Regions from separate parts of the Homo sapiens genome. Here all the other regions are linked to region 3. Evidence: fine-mapped expression QTL. A gene starts in region 3. Each other region holds a variant in brackets. All regions are shown on one strand. Distances are from middle to middle.

Region 1 (5,000 bases), 22 kb after region 3:
GGGTTCACACCATTCTCCTGCCTCAGCCTCCCGAATAGCTGGGACTACAGGCGCCCGCCACCACGCCCAGCTAATTTTTTGTATTTTTAGCAGAGACGGGGTTTCACCGTGTTAGCCAGGATGGTCTTGATCTCCTGACCTTGTGATCCGCCCGCCTCGGCCTCCCAAAGTGCCGGGATTACAGGCGTGAGCCACCGCGCCCGGCCTAAAGCTGTATTTTAAGGACATTTCCGACACATTTATAACTAAATGGAAGGTCTAAAGCCACATGCCCCTGGTTGGACAGCATCACTGTCAGTTGATACTGTCATCCTGGCAAGGCTCTTTTGTGTTTGCACAAACACTTCTTTGTTTTATAGTTTAGCTGTTATAAACAGCTATGCAACTCTCAGCACCCAGGGTTTCCAATGAGAGGAAAACCAATGGAACTTAGCGATCATATCCTCTGCAGCCCACACCTAGGAGTGGGGGAGGAGACGTGAGTGTGGCAAGACAAACAGCATCCTCTGCATCCTTCAGTGCTGCAGCTCCCTGTTGTTGCTGAGGCCGGAGGACCTGCAGATTAATAGAGGACCGTCATCAACTGGGAAGAGGAGAAGCTTGGGCATAGATACCTACTGAGAGTGCTGGCTAATGAGCTTTCGGAACAACAGTGCTTAGGGGCAGCAATGCTTAGGGTGAAACTGTGAAGAAACCCAGTTGTTTTAGATATCCTCACAGATATCTGTATGACGGGCCAAGGGCTAATATGGAATGCAGACTCCTAGGAGCTCCTGGCAAAAGAAGGAGGAGGGAAAATGGAGCAGCCAACTCAGTGAGGAAGCTGGGCACACAGCCATGCACTTCCTGCAGGGCAGAACAGGGGACACCCCTGGACCGAGGCTCTCAGGGACCATGTGCAGGAGCTTCACTTTTGTTTATGGGTAGGGGTATGGGACAGGTACCTGGATGGAGAAAAACCTGACTTGCTTAATGTCTGTGGATGCAGAAAAATTTTGCCTAATACTGGTTTAAAAGGTGAGGGTGACCTATACACCTTTTGATTTGTGCAAATCCAGGCTCTTGATGGAGAGTACAAGTTGCAGGGCCTGAAATGCTTGGAACTGAACTGGACCCTTTGGGAAAAGAACAAAAACCATTTTGTTCACTTTGCCATTCCTGTGTACCTGGTATTCCAGGTTCCTCCTCATTTTGTGACTTTTGACATTTTATAAACTGCCAAAAACATATACTATGTGATGATCAATGTTGGGATAACCATAGCAGTGAAAGGGGGGTGCCTATGGGCCTCATTGCACTGGTCACTGTCATCCTTGACCAGCTTTCACTGTAGGAGGGTCACACAGTCCAGCTGCTGTAGCAGGAATCCCATGACTTCACAAAACGTCCTGACCAAACCATGTTCATTACAATAAAAGGACAGCTGGATGTGGTGGCCCACGCCTGTAATCCCAGCTACTTGGGAGGCTGAGGCAGGAGAATCACTTGAACCTGGGAGATGGAGGTTGCAGTGAACTGAGAGACCATGCCACTACACCCCAGCCTGGGCAACAGAGTGAGACCCTGTCTCAAAAAGAAAAAAAAAATCTAAAAACCCAATAAAAACAAAATCAAAAGTTGGTTCTTTGAAAAGAACAATGAAATTGACAAACCTTTAGCTAGACTGACCAAGCAAAAAAGAAGAATCAAATTACTAAAATCAGGAATGAAAAAGGAGATATTTTCTGTATGCCCTTAGGATAATTTCCACAGAGTTTAAATTCACTTGTGTGTGTGTGTGTGTGTGTGATGGAGTCTCTCTCTGTTGCCCAGGCTGGAGTGCAGTGGCACAATCTCGGCTTACTGCAAGCTCTGCCTCCCAGGTTCATGCCATTTTCCTGCCTCAGCCTCCCAAATAGCTGGGACTACAGGCGCCCACCACCATGCCCAGCTAATTTTTTTTTGTATTTTTTTTAGTAGAGACGGGGTTTCACTGTGTTAGCCGGGATGGTCTCGGTCTCCTGACCTTGTGATCCACCAACTTCGGCCTCGCAAAGTGCTGGGATTACAGGCATGAGCCACTGCACCCGGCCCACTTTGTTAAGTACTTTATTTATTAGTTATGGTGGTTTTGTTGGGAAACTGGTCCACAGACTTTTCACACTAGTATTCTGGACCTGATGACCTTTCACTCAAGTATTCGGCATGCATTTTGGGATAGCCACTTTGATTAGCACATTTAGAAATCTAACATTGATTCTGTATTAATAGCTGACTCTCCTACAGTGCCCACCATGGGACATTCTTAAGCTTCGCTAAACTTTCTGCTTCATAGGACACCCTGGGTCCTGTTTGTATTAGATACACTGAGAGGGACACCAGACAGGAGCCCCAGTGGTGCCAGGCTGTCTTCTCCAGTGGAGCCTGGCAGCAGAGGTAGGGCGTGGCTCAGGGCTGGGAGACAGCCACAGCAGGCAGGTGGCACAACTGATGCTGGGGACTTTGACCACTTGGCTAAGCCAGTGTCCATCAGGCTTATCTATAAAGATAACTTTTTCTGTTCATAATTAATAAGAAAAACCCATGGAGGTGACTCAGTAAATTTTCATTCGCTTGTTTTAGTATCCGTTAATGATTCTTGCCTAAATCAGTTTTTACTGTGATGTGATCAAATAGCAATATTCTTTTTTTTGAGACAGTGTCTCACTCTATCACCCAGGCTGGAATGAAGTGGCATGATCATGGCTAACTGCAGCCTCATCCTCCTGGGCTCAAGCGATTCTTCTGTCTCAGCCTCCTGAATAGCTGGGACCACAGGCATGCACCACCACACCCAGCTAATTTTTAAATTTTTTGTAGAGATAGAGTCTTGCTATGTTGCCCAGGCTGACCTTGAACTCCTAGGCTCAAGTGATCATCCTGCCTCAGGCTTCCAAAATGCTGGCATTACAGGTGTGAGCC[G/A]CCGGGCCCAGCCCCCATTTCATTTTGTAAGTACTTTTTCTAATACTTGTAGCTCTGCTGCTCCATTAAGCAGGCTAGCAGGCTATGTGTCTTATACCAAATTGTGGTTTTCCTACTGAGAATAAAAACAATTAGAATTAGTTACTGTGGCTGGGCACGGTGATTCACTCCTGTAATCACAGCACTTTGGGAGGCTGAGGTGGGTGGATCACTTGGAGCCAGGAATTGAAGACCAGCCTGGCCAATATAGCAAAACCCCCTCTCTACTAAAAATACAAAAATTAGCCGCACGTGGTGGTGCACGCCTGTAATCCCAGCTACTTGGGAGGCTGAAGCATGAGAATTGCTTGAACCCAGGAGGCAGAGGTTGTAGTCAGCTGAGATCGTGCCACTGCACTCCAGCCTCAGCGACAGAGTGATACTCCATCTCAAAAAAAGGAAAAGGAAAAAAGAATTCATTACTGTAATCTGTGGTTAACAACAAAAAATCTCCTCAAAAAATGCTTAGCAGGCCAGGCGTGCTGCACACCTGTAATCCAGCAGTTTGGGAGTCTGAGGCAGGCGGATCACCTGAGGTCAGGAGTTCGAGACCAGCCTGACCAATTTGGTGAAACCCCGTCTCTACTAAAAATTCAAAAATTAGCCAGGTGTGGTGGCATGCTCCTGTAGTCTCAGCTACTCGGGAGGCTGAGACGGGAGAATTGTTTGAACCCGGAAAGTGGAGGTTTCAGTGAGTCAACATCGCACCAGTGCATTCCAGCCTGGGTGACAGAGTGAGACTCTGTCTGAAAAAAAAAAAAAGGCCAGGCGCGGTGGCTCACACCTGTAATCCCAGCATTTTGGGAGGCCGAGGTGGGCGGATCACCTGAGATCGGGAGTTCAAGATCAGCCTGACCAACGTGGAGAAACCTCGTCTCTACTAAAAAAAAATACAAAATTAGCTGGGCATGGTGGCACATGCCTGTAATCCCAGCTACTAGGGAGGGTGAGGCAGGAGAATCGCTTGAACCTGGGAGGAGGCGGAGGTTGCGGTGAGCCGACATCGCGCCATTGCACTCCAGCCTGGGCAACAAGAGTGAAACTCTGCCTCAAAAAAAAAAGTGCTTAGGAGCATTTTGCCATATCTGAAGGACAAACCTGTCTCAAAGGTTGGGAGACCTCTCACCATACACACCTGTCAAGAGGCAGGGGGAGGGAGGAAGGTGCTGGGGCTCCGCCTGCCCTGCGTGGGATGGGTGGGGTAACCTGAGAGGATGCCGGCAAGTCTCAGGTCAAATGTCAGAGCATCAGGTGAGTGTAAGGATGTGGTTCCCGCATGGCTGAAAGAAGAGTCGTATCAGAAGAGTTATAAATAATGAAAATTGAGTGACTTGTTTAAGCAGGAAGTCAAACCCTATGATAATAAAATTCTTATATAAATGGACTACAGTAAATGCATGAGAGAGTTGGACTTTAAAGACTCAAACCCTTTTGAGATAAAAATAAAACTCCATCAAAGGAATATCTTTGTGGTAGCTTGTTGGGTGAAAGAAAACTGATGTATAAAGATCTCATTTCCTTATTTGGGTCAGCCTGTGTTGGTTGCAAAAAATATCTTGACTTTGCCACTTTCGGTGGTCTCTAATGCTGCCATTTATAGATGAAAGATTCTCTTTAGGGTGAATAAACAGTATGACATTCATTCTTTTCAATTTTAGTTTTCATGTCAAAAGTTTCTCGCTTGTAAACCTCTTCCTGATATACGTAGCTGGTAAACCCACTTTTCTGACATTTTTTATCTCATTTTTTATAGGTACTTCCTATTTAACAGACATTGTGTGGTGGGCTGGCACAATCGCAAGTAAGTAGCCTGTGTGGCGAAGTCTGGTCTTTTCCTTTCTTAGAATCCATCACTGGTCTGGGCAGGGCTGGAGTGGCTGGGCTAGGGTGGCTCTGTTCTTTGGAAGAGGGTGTCGCGTGGCCTCTCCCCAGGCCCTAAGCGTGCCTTTCAGTTCGGATGTCCCTGCCTCCCCAGGGCACTCTCCCTGCTCCCCTTCCTCCCAGGATGAGAGTGCAGAAGG
Region 2 (5,000 bases), 31 kb after region 3:
GGTGACAGAGCAAAACTCTGTCCCTCCCCCGCCCCCCAAAAAAACAAAGAAAAGATAAAGCTCATTAAAAAAACAACTATGAACTAATTCTCTTATGAATATAGATGGAGAAATTTTGAACAAAATACTAACCAGTTGGATCCAGCAATATATAAAAAGGATTATACAAGTGGGATTTATCCCAGAAATGCAAAGTAGATTTAGCATTGAAAATAAATTAGTGTAATATACCACAGCAATAGAATAATCACCATGTGATCATCTCAAAAGACACACAAAAATTATGTGGTACAATTCAATACTCTTTCATGACGAAAACTCTCAATATGCTAGGCATAGAAAATAACTTCCTAAACTGACAAAGGGCCTCTGTCAAAGTACCCCAGCTAACATCATACTTAATGGCACAAGGGTTGATGTTTTCCCCTTAAGATCAGGAAGAAAATAAGCTGCCTACTTTCACCTCATCTATTCATCATTGTACTGGATGTTATAGCCACAGCAATTAGGTAAGCAAACAAATTAAAAGGCATCCATATTGGAAAGGAAAGGAAGAATTTAATTGCCTTTATTGGCAGAAGACCTGATTTTTTTTTTTTTTTTTTTTTTTTTTTTTGAGACAGAGTCTCACTCTGTCACCAGGCTAGAGTTCAGTTGTGTGATCTTGGCTCACTGCAACCTCCACCTCCCGGGTTCAAGTGATTCTCCTTCCTCAGCCTCCCGAGTAGCTGGGACTACAGGCGCGTACCACCATGCCCAGCTAATTTTTGTATTTTTAGTAGAGACGGGGTTTCACCATGTTAGCCAGGATGGTCTTGATTTCCTGACCTTGTGGTCTGCCTGCCTCGGCCTCCCAAAGTGCTGGGATTACAGGTGTGAGCCACCGCACCCAGCCTTTTTTTTTTTTTTTTTTTTTTTCAGATGGAGTCTCACTCTGTCACCCAGGCTGGAGTGCAGTGGTGTGCTGTCGGCTCACTGCAACCTCGGCCTCCTGGGTTCAAGTGATTCTCCTGCCTCAGCCTCCGAGGAGCTTGGATTACAGGTGCCCACCACCACGCCCAGCTAATTTTTGTATTTTTAGTAGAGATGGGGTTTTGCCATGTTGGCTAGGCTAGTCTTGAACTCCTGACTTTAGGTGATCCACCCACTTTGGCCTCCCAAAGTGCTGGGATTACAGGCATGAGCCACCACACCCAGCAGAGGACCTGATCTTATATAGAGAGTCCTAAAGAATCACTAAGAAATTATTAGAACTAATAAGTTTAGCAAGGTCGATGGACACAAGATCACTATATAAAAATTACATCTGAGGCCGGGCGTAGTGGCTCACTCCTGTAATCCCAGCACTCTGGGAGGCTGAGACGGGAAGATCACCTGAGGTCAGGAGTTAGAGACCAGCCTGGCCAACATGGTGAAACCCCATCTCTACAAAAATACAAAAAAAAATCAGCCAGGTGTGGTGGCACATGCCTGTAGTCCCAGCTACTCAGGAGGCTGAGGCAGGAGAATTGCTTAAACCCAGGAGGTAGAGGTTACAGTGAGCCGAGATTGTGCCACTGCACTCCAGCCCAGGCAACAGAGTGAGACTCTGTCTCAAAAAAAAAAAAAAAAAAAAAAAATTACATCTGCCAGGCGCAGTGGCTCAGGCCTGTAATCCCAGCACTTTGGGAGGCTGAGGTGGGTGGATCACCTGAGGTAAGGAGTTCGAGATCAGCCTGACCAACGTGGTGAAACCCCGTCTCTCATAAAAATACAAAATTAGCCAAGCATGGTGGCGCATGCCTGTAATCCCAGCCACTCGGGAGGCTGAGGCAGGAGAATCGCTTGAACCCAGTAGGCAGAGGTTGCAGTGAGCCGAGATCGGGCCATTGCACTCCAGCCTGGGCAACAAAAGCGAAACTCCGTCTCAAAAAAAAAAAAAAAAATTACGGCTGGGCACAGTGGCTGATGCCTGTAATCCCAGCACTTTGGGAGGCTGAGGTGGGTGGATCACGAGGTCAGGAGATCAAGACCATCCTGGCTAACACGGTGAAACCCCATCTCTACTAAAAGAAATACAAAAAATTAGC[C/T]GGGCGTAGTGGCAGGCACCTGTAGTCCCAGCTACTCGGGAGGCTGAGGCAGGAGAATGGCGTGAACCCGGGAGGCGGAGCTTGCAGTGAGCTGAGATCGTGCCACTGCACTTCAGCCTGAGTGACAGAGCGAGACTGTGTCTCAAAGAAAAAAAAAAAAAATTGCATCTATATACAGTAGCAGTGAGCAAACCAAAAATGAAATTAAGAAAGCAATTTCATATGCAGTAGCACCAAAATGATGAAATACTTAAGAATAAATTTAACTGGCCAGGCACAGTGGCTTATGCCTTCAATTCCCACACTTTGGGAGGCCCAGGCAGGTGGATCACGAAGGGCACAAACAACAGAAGGAAAATAGATAAATTCGATGTCATCAAAATTAAAAACCTTTCTGCTTAAAAGGATGCCATCAATGAATTGAAAACTCGTGGGAGAAAAAATTTCAAAGTATATATCTGATAAGGGACTTGTAGTTAGAACACATAAAAACTCTTGCCGGTCGTGGTGGCTCACGCCTGTAATCCCAGCACTTTGGGAGGCCGAGGCGGGTGGATCATGAGATCAGGAGTTCGAGACCAGCCTGGCCAACATGGTAAAACTCCGTCTCTACTAAATACAAAAAATTAGCCTGGTGTGGTGGCACATGCCTGTAATCCCAGCTACTTGGGAGGCTGAGGCAGGAGAATTGTTTGACCTCAGGAGGTGGAGGTTCCATTGAGCCGAGATTGCGCCATTGCACTCCAGCCTGGGCACCAAGAGGGAAACTCTGTCTCAACAAAAGAAAACGAAACAGAAACTCTTACAGTGCATCAGTAAAAAGTCAGATAACCCAATTTAAAAATGGCACTGTCAGCCAGGCGCAGTGGCTCATGCCTATAATCCCAGCACTTTGGGAGGCGAGGCGGGTGAATCACTTGAGGTCAGGAGTTTGAGACCAGCCTGGCCAACATGGTGAAACCCCGTCCTTACTAAAAATACAAAAATCCCCCAGGGCATGGTGGCGGGCATCTGTAATCCCAGCTACTCGGGAGGCTGAGGCAGGAGAATTGCTTGAACCCGGGAGGCAGAGGTTGCAGTGAGTCGAGACTGCTCCACTGCACTCCAGCCTGGGTCACAGAGTGAGACTCTGTCTCAATAAATGAATGAATGAATGAATGAAAATGGCACTGTCCTCTGGTATTCCACAATGGAATAAGAGATGATTTGGCCTCGTGGCTCATACTGTCCACTTTCGTGCATGGCAACCCTTTCCCATCTTGGCATAGTCCACCCGTTGTCCGAGGCCAGTTCCAGGCCCACTTTTTGCCCTGTGAGCCCCCTGCATTTCTGGTTTCTCCTTTTCCAGGCAGCTACTCGGTGGAGCTTCTCTATTTAACATCTAGTTGTGTATTCATGTCTTTTGTTGTTTCTTTCAGTGATGTTGCTTATTTCCCCAATGACACTGTTGGGAGCTTCTTAAGAACAGGCTGTCTAGGGACAAGGATGTGAAGTGGTACAAGGGAAAAGTAGGCCGTTTAGGACCTGTGGGTGTGTCATGACCGTGCTTGTATCTCTTGTTAGCTTTGTGGCCTTAGGTTCAATGCTGACCCTTTCTGAGGCTCAAGTTTCCTTATCTTTAAAATAGGTATTAAAGGAAGTAATCCGGTCCATACCTGAGCCTGGTATGCCCTCCTCCCGGACGTTCCTGTTTTCTGATCGTCTTCAGCACAGACATGAGTAAAGTGACAATGACCAGTCCTGTGACTTACTGAGGGCAAGGTGTTCCAATTCAGATTGTATACTGATAATTACACAGGGAAATAAGAGAAGAAACAAGTTAGAAGCCTGGAGATTATAGATGTTTTTGAAGAATACATTTTTTTGCATTAATAATGTGACCAGTTTTTAAAAGTTTTCAGTATTAGAGGAAATAGCCACCCCATACTACTTCTACTACTGCAATTACTATTAGCATTTTTATTTTTTCTTTTGTTTGTGCATTTTTCACTTAATTTATTTTGTTTTTATCATGCATTACTTATAATTATTTTGACAGTTTTTGTACCCTACTTTTCCATGTAGCATAGATATTAGTATTTTTGATTGGTTCCTTTTATAAGAAAGGAAGCATTACTTTTATTTTTGGTCAGTCATAAAACTTTTTATACTCTGGTGTATTTTATATGTGCTGACATAGTAATATAGTGGTGTAAATTATGTGTATCATTAACTACGTAGTGGTTATACATGGAATTGGTGTGAAAATCCTGGCCAGGCATGGTGGCTCACACCTATAATTCCAGCACTTTGGGAGTCCAAGGCAAGAGGATCGTTTGAGCCCAGGAGTTTGAGACTTGCCTGGGCAATCTAGTGAGACCCAGTCTCTACACAAAATTTTTAAAAAATTAGCTGGGTGTGGTGGCATGCACCTGTAGTCCCAGCTACTCCGGTGGCTGAGGTAGGAGGATCACTTGAGCCCAGGAGTTCAAGCTTGTGGTGAGCTGTGATTGCACCACTGCACTCCAGCCTGGGCAACAGAGTGGGAGGTGGTCTCTTAAAGGGAAAAAAAGAAGAAAAAGAAAATGGTTTTTCTAGATAAAATATCTGCTGTTAGAAGAAAGGTCAGGTAGTTTGGTTTAAACTTTAATGATTTCTCTTTTTTCAATAAAGGTCCATTTTAGCTTCCTATCTCCTGAAGGAAAAGCTCAACATCTTGGGCAAGTTGGGGTGCCTGCTAAGCTGTGCAGGCTCCGTCGTGCTGATTATCCACTCCCCAAAGTCTGAGAGTGTGACAACTCAGGCTGAGCTGGAGGAAAAGCTGACCAATCCAGGTAATTCCTTTCTAGCAGCACTGCCAAGAAAGTTTGCAGTAGGAGTGCCAACTTTTTTAACCACGTCTTCAAATTGGATGCTTCCTGGCAGGGCAGAGGAACCGTGTGTCCACCCTGA
Region 3 (6,011 bases):
AAAATACAAAAAAATTCGCCAGGCGTGGTGGCAGGCGTCTGTAATCCCAGCTACTTGGGAGGCTGAAGCAGAGAATTGGTTGAACCCATGAAGCGTAGGTTGCAGTGAGCCAAGATCACGCCACTGCACTCCAGCCTGGGTGACAGAGCAAGACTCCATCTCAAAACATAAGACGAAAAAAAAATTTTTTAGGGAGCTGAAAAGTGAACTGATTTCCTCATTTCTCCTTGCAAGGAATCAATTGATAGCCCAAAATTGAAACCCAGAGTTAAAATAAACGTAACTCCCACCCTCTTAGTGTTTCTCACTTTTTTTTTTTTTTTTTTGAGACAGGGTCTCACTTCTGTTGCCCAGGCTGGAGTGCAGTGGCGTGATCATGGCTCACTGTAGCCTCAACTTCTGGGGTCAAGTGATCCTCCCATAGCCTCCTGAGTAGCTGGGACTACAAGCACATGTCACCATGCCTGGCTAATTTTTGTATTTTTTTGCAGAGATGGGGTTTCATCATGTTGCCCAGGCTGATCTCAAACTCCTGGGCTCAAGTGATCTGCTGGCCTTGGCCTCCCAAAGTACTGGGATTATAGGCATGAGCCACTGTACCTGGCCTACTAACTTTAATTTTAGGTGTATCTTTTAGGAAGTAATATCTCATGGCAAAATAATGTTTGTCATTCAGTAGTTACTGTAGTTTCATTTCAGTTTTTCTTTTGTTAAATTCAAGCAAAATATAGTTTTATGTTTTTAATTAAAATCCCATATGTGTTTCCCCATCAGATAAAATATGCCTGTCATTTAACCTATGTACTCACATGGAAAAATGTCTGGGGTGGAGTTCTTTTTTTTTTCTTTTTTTTTTTGAGACGGAGTCTCACTCCGTCGCCCAGGCTGGAGTGCAGTGGTGCCATCTCGGCTCACTGCAAGCTCCGCCTCCCGGGTTCACGCCATTCTCCTGCCTCAGCCTCCTGAGTAGCTGGGACTACAGGCGCCCTCCACCATGCCCGGCTAATTTTTTGTATTTTTAGTAGAGACCGGGTTTCATCGTGTTAGCTAGGATGGTCTCGATCTCTTGACCTCCTGATCCATCCACCTGACCTCCGGATCCGTCCGCCTCCGCCTCCCAAAGTGCTGGGATTACAGTCATGAGCCACCTCCCCGGCCCTATTTTATATTTCTTCACAAAATAATAATGCTGTATGCAAAGCTGCCAAAAGGTTTATACTTTTCGTTTGTTTTTGAGACAATCTTGCTCTGTTGCCCAGGCTGGAGTGCAGTGGTGCAATAACAGCTCACTGCAACCTCCACCTCAAGCCATCCTCCCACCTCTGCCTCCAGAGTATCTGGGGTTGGAGGTAAAAGCCACCACGCCCCGCTAATTAATTTTTTTCTTTTTTTGGTAGAGACGGGTCTCGCTACGTTGCCCAGGCTGGTCTTGAACGTCTGAGCTCAAGCGAGCCTCCCACCTCGGTCCCCAAAGTGCTGGGATTATAGGTGTGAGCCACTGTGCCCAGCTTGTAGCATCGTTTATAGACAACAAAACCTGGCAGCAACCGGCCAGGCGCGGTGGTTCACGCCTGTAATCCCAGCACTTTGGGAGGTAGAGCGGACGGATCACCTGAGGTCAGGAGTTCAAGACCAGCCTTGCCAAGATGGTGAAACCGCGTCTCTACTCAAAATACAAAAATTAACCCGGGCGTGGTGGCGGACGCCTGTAATTCTAGATACTCGGAGGCTGAGGCCGAGAATCGCTTGAATCCGGGAGGCGGAAGGTTGCAGTGAGCCGAGATCGCGCCATTGCACTCCAGCCTGGGCGACAGAGCGAGACTCTGTCTCAAAAAAACAAACCAACCTGGTAGCTACCTAACACCCAACAATGGCTGAATGGTTAGACAAATTATTATACTGTCATTAGAATAATCATATTTATGTACCGATACAGAAACTGATATATATTAAATAAAAAGGAAATTTCGTATATTGTAATTGGAAACATGTAAAAGTATGTATACATTATGGGAAAACACCTAAAATACTAATAATTAGGTGAGGGTTGTGGAATTGAGTCACTTTAAAAAATATTTTTTTCCAAAAAAAATAAAATAACTTTTTCCTATTTTTCAAGCTTGTAATTTTGTTGTTGTTTCTTTTTTTTTTTTTTTTTGAGACGGAGTCTCGCTCTGTCGCCCAGGCTCGAGTGCAGTTGTGTGATCTCCGCTCACTGCAAGCTCTGCCTCCCGGGTTCACACCCTTCTCCTGGCTCAGCCTCCCGAGTAGCTGGGACTACAGGCCTCCGCCACGACGCCCAGCTAATTTTTTGTATTTTTAGTAGAGACGGGGTTTCACTGTGTTAGCCAGGATGGTCTCGATCTCCTGACCTTGTGATCCACCCGCCTCGGCCTCCCGAAGTGCTGGGATTACAGGCGTGAGCCACCGCGCCCGGCTTGTTGTAGTTTATTAAAACGAGGAAACTAGACTATGGGATCACAAGCCCAGAGCCCCATGTAGCTGACTCTAGCGCCAAGGGCGGAAGAGAAACGCCCAGCGCCAGGGCTCTCCTTCGATCTCTGCAGCGGCGCGCCGGGCTTCGCGCTCCGGTGAGTTGGGCCGGCCTCCGCTGGAGGCTCTTCGGGGACCGCTGCCCGCCGGTGCGTCCTGCCGCGCTCCGCTGCCCGGATATTGCAGAGGACACCACTCAGAAAGTATGCGTGTTTCTCCGCGCTGGAAACTTAACCAGGAGTCCTGCATTTCCATTTGCGAAATCCGGGAACCCCCGCCCCACCCAGCGCCTCACCGGCCCCTCACTGCCGCCGCGTCCGGCGCCACTGCTGTCCCCGCAGCCTAAGGCGCCGGTCCCTGGCACCCCCGTCCCGCCCCCGCCCCTCTTCCTGCTCCTCCCCCACCCGTCCCCCTCCCCTCCCCCGCCCGCGCCTCCCGGTCACCCCCCATCCCGCCCCGCGGGGCGCGGCGCGCAGGCGCAGGCTCGGAGGGCGGGCGCGGGCGGAATGGGGACTGCAGCTGCGGCAGCGGCGGCGGCGGCGGCGGCGGCGGCCGGGGAGGGGGCGCGTAGCCCGAGCCCCGCCGCCGTGTCGCTCGGCCTGGGCGTGGCCGTCGTGTCGAGCCTGGTGAACGGGTCCACGTTCGTGCTACAGAAGAAGGGCATCGTGCGTGCCAAGCGGCGAGGTAGGGCGGGCGGCAGGCGGCAGGCGGCGGGCGGGTGGGGGAGGCGGGCGGCGGAGAAGGCGGTCGCAGGTGGGGGCGCCCGGGTCGGGGCAGGGGACGGGGTCGGGGCCCGGGCCCAGGTTGGGGGAAGGCTGCGCGGGCGGGTGCTCCCCGCGGCGTGCCCAGGCTGCCGCCGCGTCCTGGCGCTCGGGCCCGGGAGCGGCCCAGGAATCACAGGTGCGTCCTGAGCGTCCGGCGCTTCGCCGACGCCACGGCTTTTCTCCGTTCTCAGCGGCTGGAGCGGCTTGCTTTGGTGTGCGGGCTTCCCCGGCTGACTTTTTCCCTCGGTCCAAGACCTGCCCCGCGCCGCCCGGCAGCCCTCGCCGTGGCCCGCAACCCGCGGCCGGGAGCCTCCTGCGGACGCGGTGCTGGGGTGCTCGAGCCCAGCGCCCGCCTGGAAGCGCCGCTTCAGCCGATGCGCGGCCCGCTCCTAGGGTACGCTCGGTAGAGCAAGACCTGGGATTTCCAGTCCCCCGCAGGGGCCTCGCTGGTGCAAAAGGAAGACCCGGGCGGGCTCTCAGGGCTGTGCGTTCCTGGGGTGCTCTTACGGAGCCCGCTGCGCCTTAGACCTGCACCAAATGAATACAAGTGATCTTCAGTTTGGAGAACACGCGCGGCAGATCCAAAACCAAGCCCTGGACGGGCCAAGGCCACTTCCCAGGTGGATGTGCCGCAGCACCGCACTCCGTAGTGCTCTGCGGGGTAGAGCTCTCTGTCAGTGTCGTTTGTGCTGGGAGGCCCCGGACGGGACCGGTTTGCCAATGCAGGATATGGCAGGCTGTGAAACAGTCCGTTTCCATTGCTTCCAGAGGGACTGAGAAAGTCTTGTGGTTCTTGGCCATACTCTTAGAAGAAGAATATTAAGAGCTCTCTGGGAAGGATGTGGCCCCCGACTCTTGGGTTGTGAGAGAAAGTGAACTCGTAATTTACATGGCGGAATGCAGGTGAAACTTTCTCTGAGTGAGCCAGGCGTTGGCTTCAGAGAAGAGATAAAGGGCCCGACAGTCTCGAATGAAAATATAAAATCATGGATAATTTAAGGAATTTAGCTTTAAAGTGAAAGCATAGTGGTCTCCCATACAATTTAAATAGAATTAAATAAAACCAAGTATGATTTTCCAAGGATGCAGATGTGTCTGTCTCTAAGGCACACAGATACACACACACCGCAGCCACACTTCAGGGAGCATCTGTCCGTGTGACAGGCCCCAGGACTGGGTGAGATGGTCAACGCGCGTGACCTTATAAATAGGATGGCCTGAGAAAGCACCTCACCTCCCCAATCCACGGCCCTAGCGTAAGCATGAGGAAAACACCACACAAACCGGAGTAGAAGAACATCTTGCGGCCGGGCGCGGTGGCTGGTGCCTGTAGTCCCAGCACTTTGGGAGGCCGAGGCGGGCGGGTCACAAGGTCAGGAGATCTAGACCATCCTGGCTAACACGACGAAACCCCATCTCTACTAAAAATACAAAAAATTATCCCGGTGTGGTGGCACGCACCTGTAGTACCAGCTACTCGAGAGGCTGAGGCAGGAGAGTCTCTTGAACCCGGGAGACAGAGGTTGCAGTGAGCCGGGATCCGCCACTGCACTCAGCCTGGGCGGCAGAGCAAGACTCCATCTCAAAAAAAAAAAAAAAAATCTTGCAGTACACCTGACCAGTCCTCTGTGAAGGTCATGGAATCTGAAAGCACGTCACAACCAGGAGGAGCCTAAGAACACGTGAACACCAGATGTAAGACATTAGGGAAAAACGAAGGAAAGCTGAATACCAGCTTTAGTTAGTTTTCTAAAAAGTTGAGGAAAACTGTGTTATTTCAACCCAGGTCATGTGGCTCAAAGGAATTGGTGAATAGGAAAATAAACAAGCGAGTAGCCTTTTAAAAAAAACATGATAAGCTGGGTGCAGTGGCTCACACCTGTAATCCCAGCTACTCGGGAGGCTGAGGCAGGAGAATTGCTTGAACCCAGGAGGGGGAGGTTGCAGTGAGCCAAAATTGTGCCATTGCACTCCAGCCCGAGCGAGAAGAACAAGGCTCTGTCTTAAAAAAAAAAAAAAAAAAGATAAATGCTGTTTCTTATACCTATATACTATGCTTTCATTCATTTATTTATTTTTTATTATGATTTTTTTTTGAGACGGAGTTTCGCTCTTGTTGCCCAGGCTGGAGTGCAATGGCGCGATCTTGGCTCACTGAACCTCTGCCTCCCGGGTTCAAGCGATTCGCCTGCCACAGCCTCCCGAGCTGGGATTACAGGCGCGTGCCACCATATCTGGCTAATTTTGTGCTTTTACTGGAGATGGGGTTTCATCATGTTGGCCAGGATGGTCCCGAACTCCAGACCTCAGGTGATCTGCCCACCTCAGTCTCCCAAAATGCTGGGATTACAGGCGTGAGCCACCAACACTCGGCCTATATTATGGTTTTAAATTGATCAAAGTGAACTTGTGATTTTCATTATTTATTTTAAGCCCCAGACATTGCATGGTGTTAGGCTTTAGCTCTATGACTCTTCAGAGCCTCCCGTCCAGGAGGCCATTAGCACCTCAGTTCTTCCCGGTCTGGACCCAAGGTCCTTTCCATCCCTGTGAGCCACCCATCAAGGTGAGCTGAGAGACCAGCCGGCGGGGCAGAGTCACTTACGGCTGAGAGGAATTGTTTTGGGATTTGGTTAGTAAGTAGGAGAGAAAAGGAGAAGAAAACTTGTATGGGGGTTGAGCACCTCCCGCCGAAGAAGGCGAGGGAGGCATGGAGGTGTCTTACACTAGGGAACATTTCCGAGTCATGTGGCA

Evidence for each region. PIP is the estimated chance that this variant, and not a neighbour inherited with it, causes the effect.
Region 1: its variant is fine-mapped to the expression of NIPA1 in tibial nerve (GTEx, PIP 0.99).
Region 2: its variant is fine-mapped to the expression of NIPA1 in whole blood (TOPMed, PIP above 0.99).

The regions. Positions count from the first base shown.
Region 1 is chr15:22,806,017-22,811,016 of GRCh38, forward strand. It overlaps NIPA1 (NIPA magnesium transporter 1), which reads left to right. Exons shown (of 5, transcript NM_144599.5): 2 at 4,733-4,780. Among named protein-coding and RNA genes, the nearest start is that of NIPA1, 22 kb to the left of the region's middle. The variant G/A (reference allele first, on the strand shown) is at 2,941.
Region 2 is chr15:22,815,592-22,820,591 of GRCh38, forward strand. It overlaps NIPA1 (NIPA magnesium transporter 1), which reads left to right. Exons shown (of 5, transcript NM_144599.5): 4 at 4,722-4,882. Among named protein-coding and RNA genes, the nearest start is that of NIPA2, 21 kb to the right of the region's middle. The variant C/T (reference allele first, on the strand shown) is at 2,070.
Region 3 is chr15:22,783,658-22,789,668 of GRCh38, forward strand. It overlaps NIPA1 (NIPA magnesium transporter 1), which reads left to right and starts at 2,987. Exons shown (of 5, transcript NM_144599.5): 1 at 2,987-3,177. The coding sequence starts at 3,000. RefSeq lists silencers at 2,659-2,892, 2,855-3,214, 3,285-3,434, 3,445-3,574 and an enhancer at 3,925-4,034.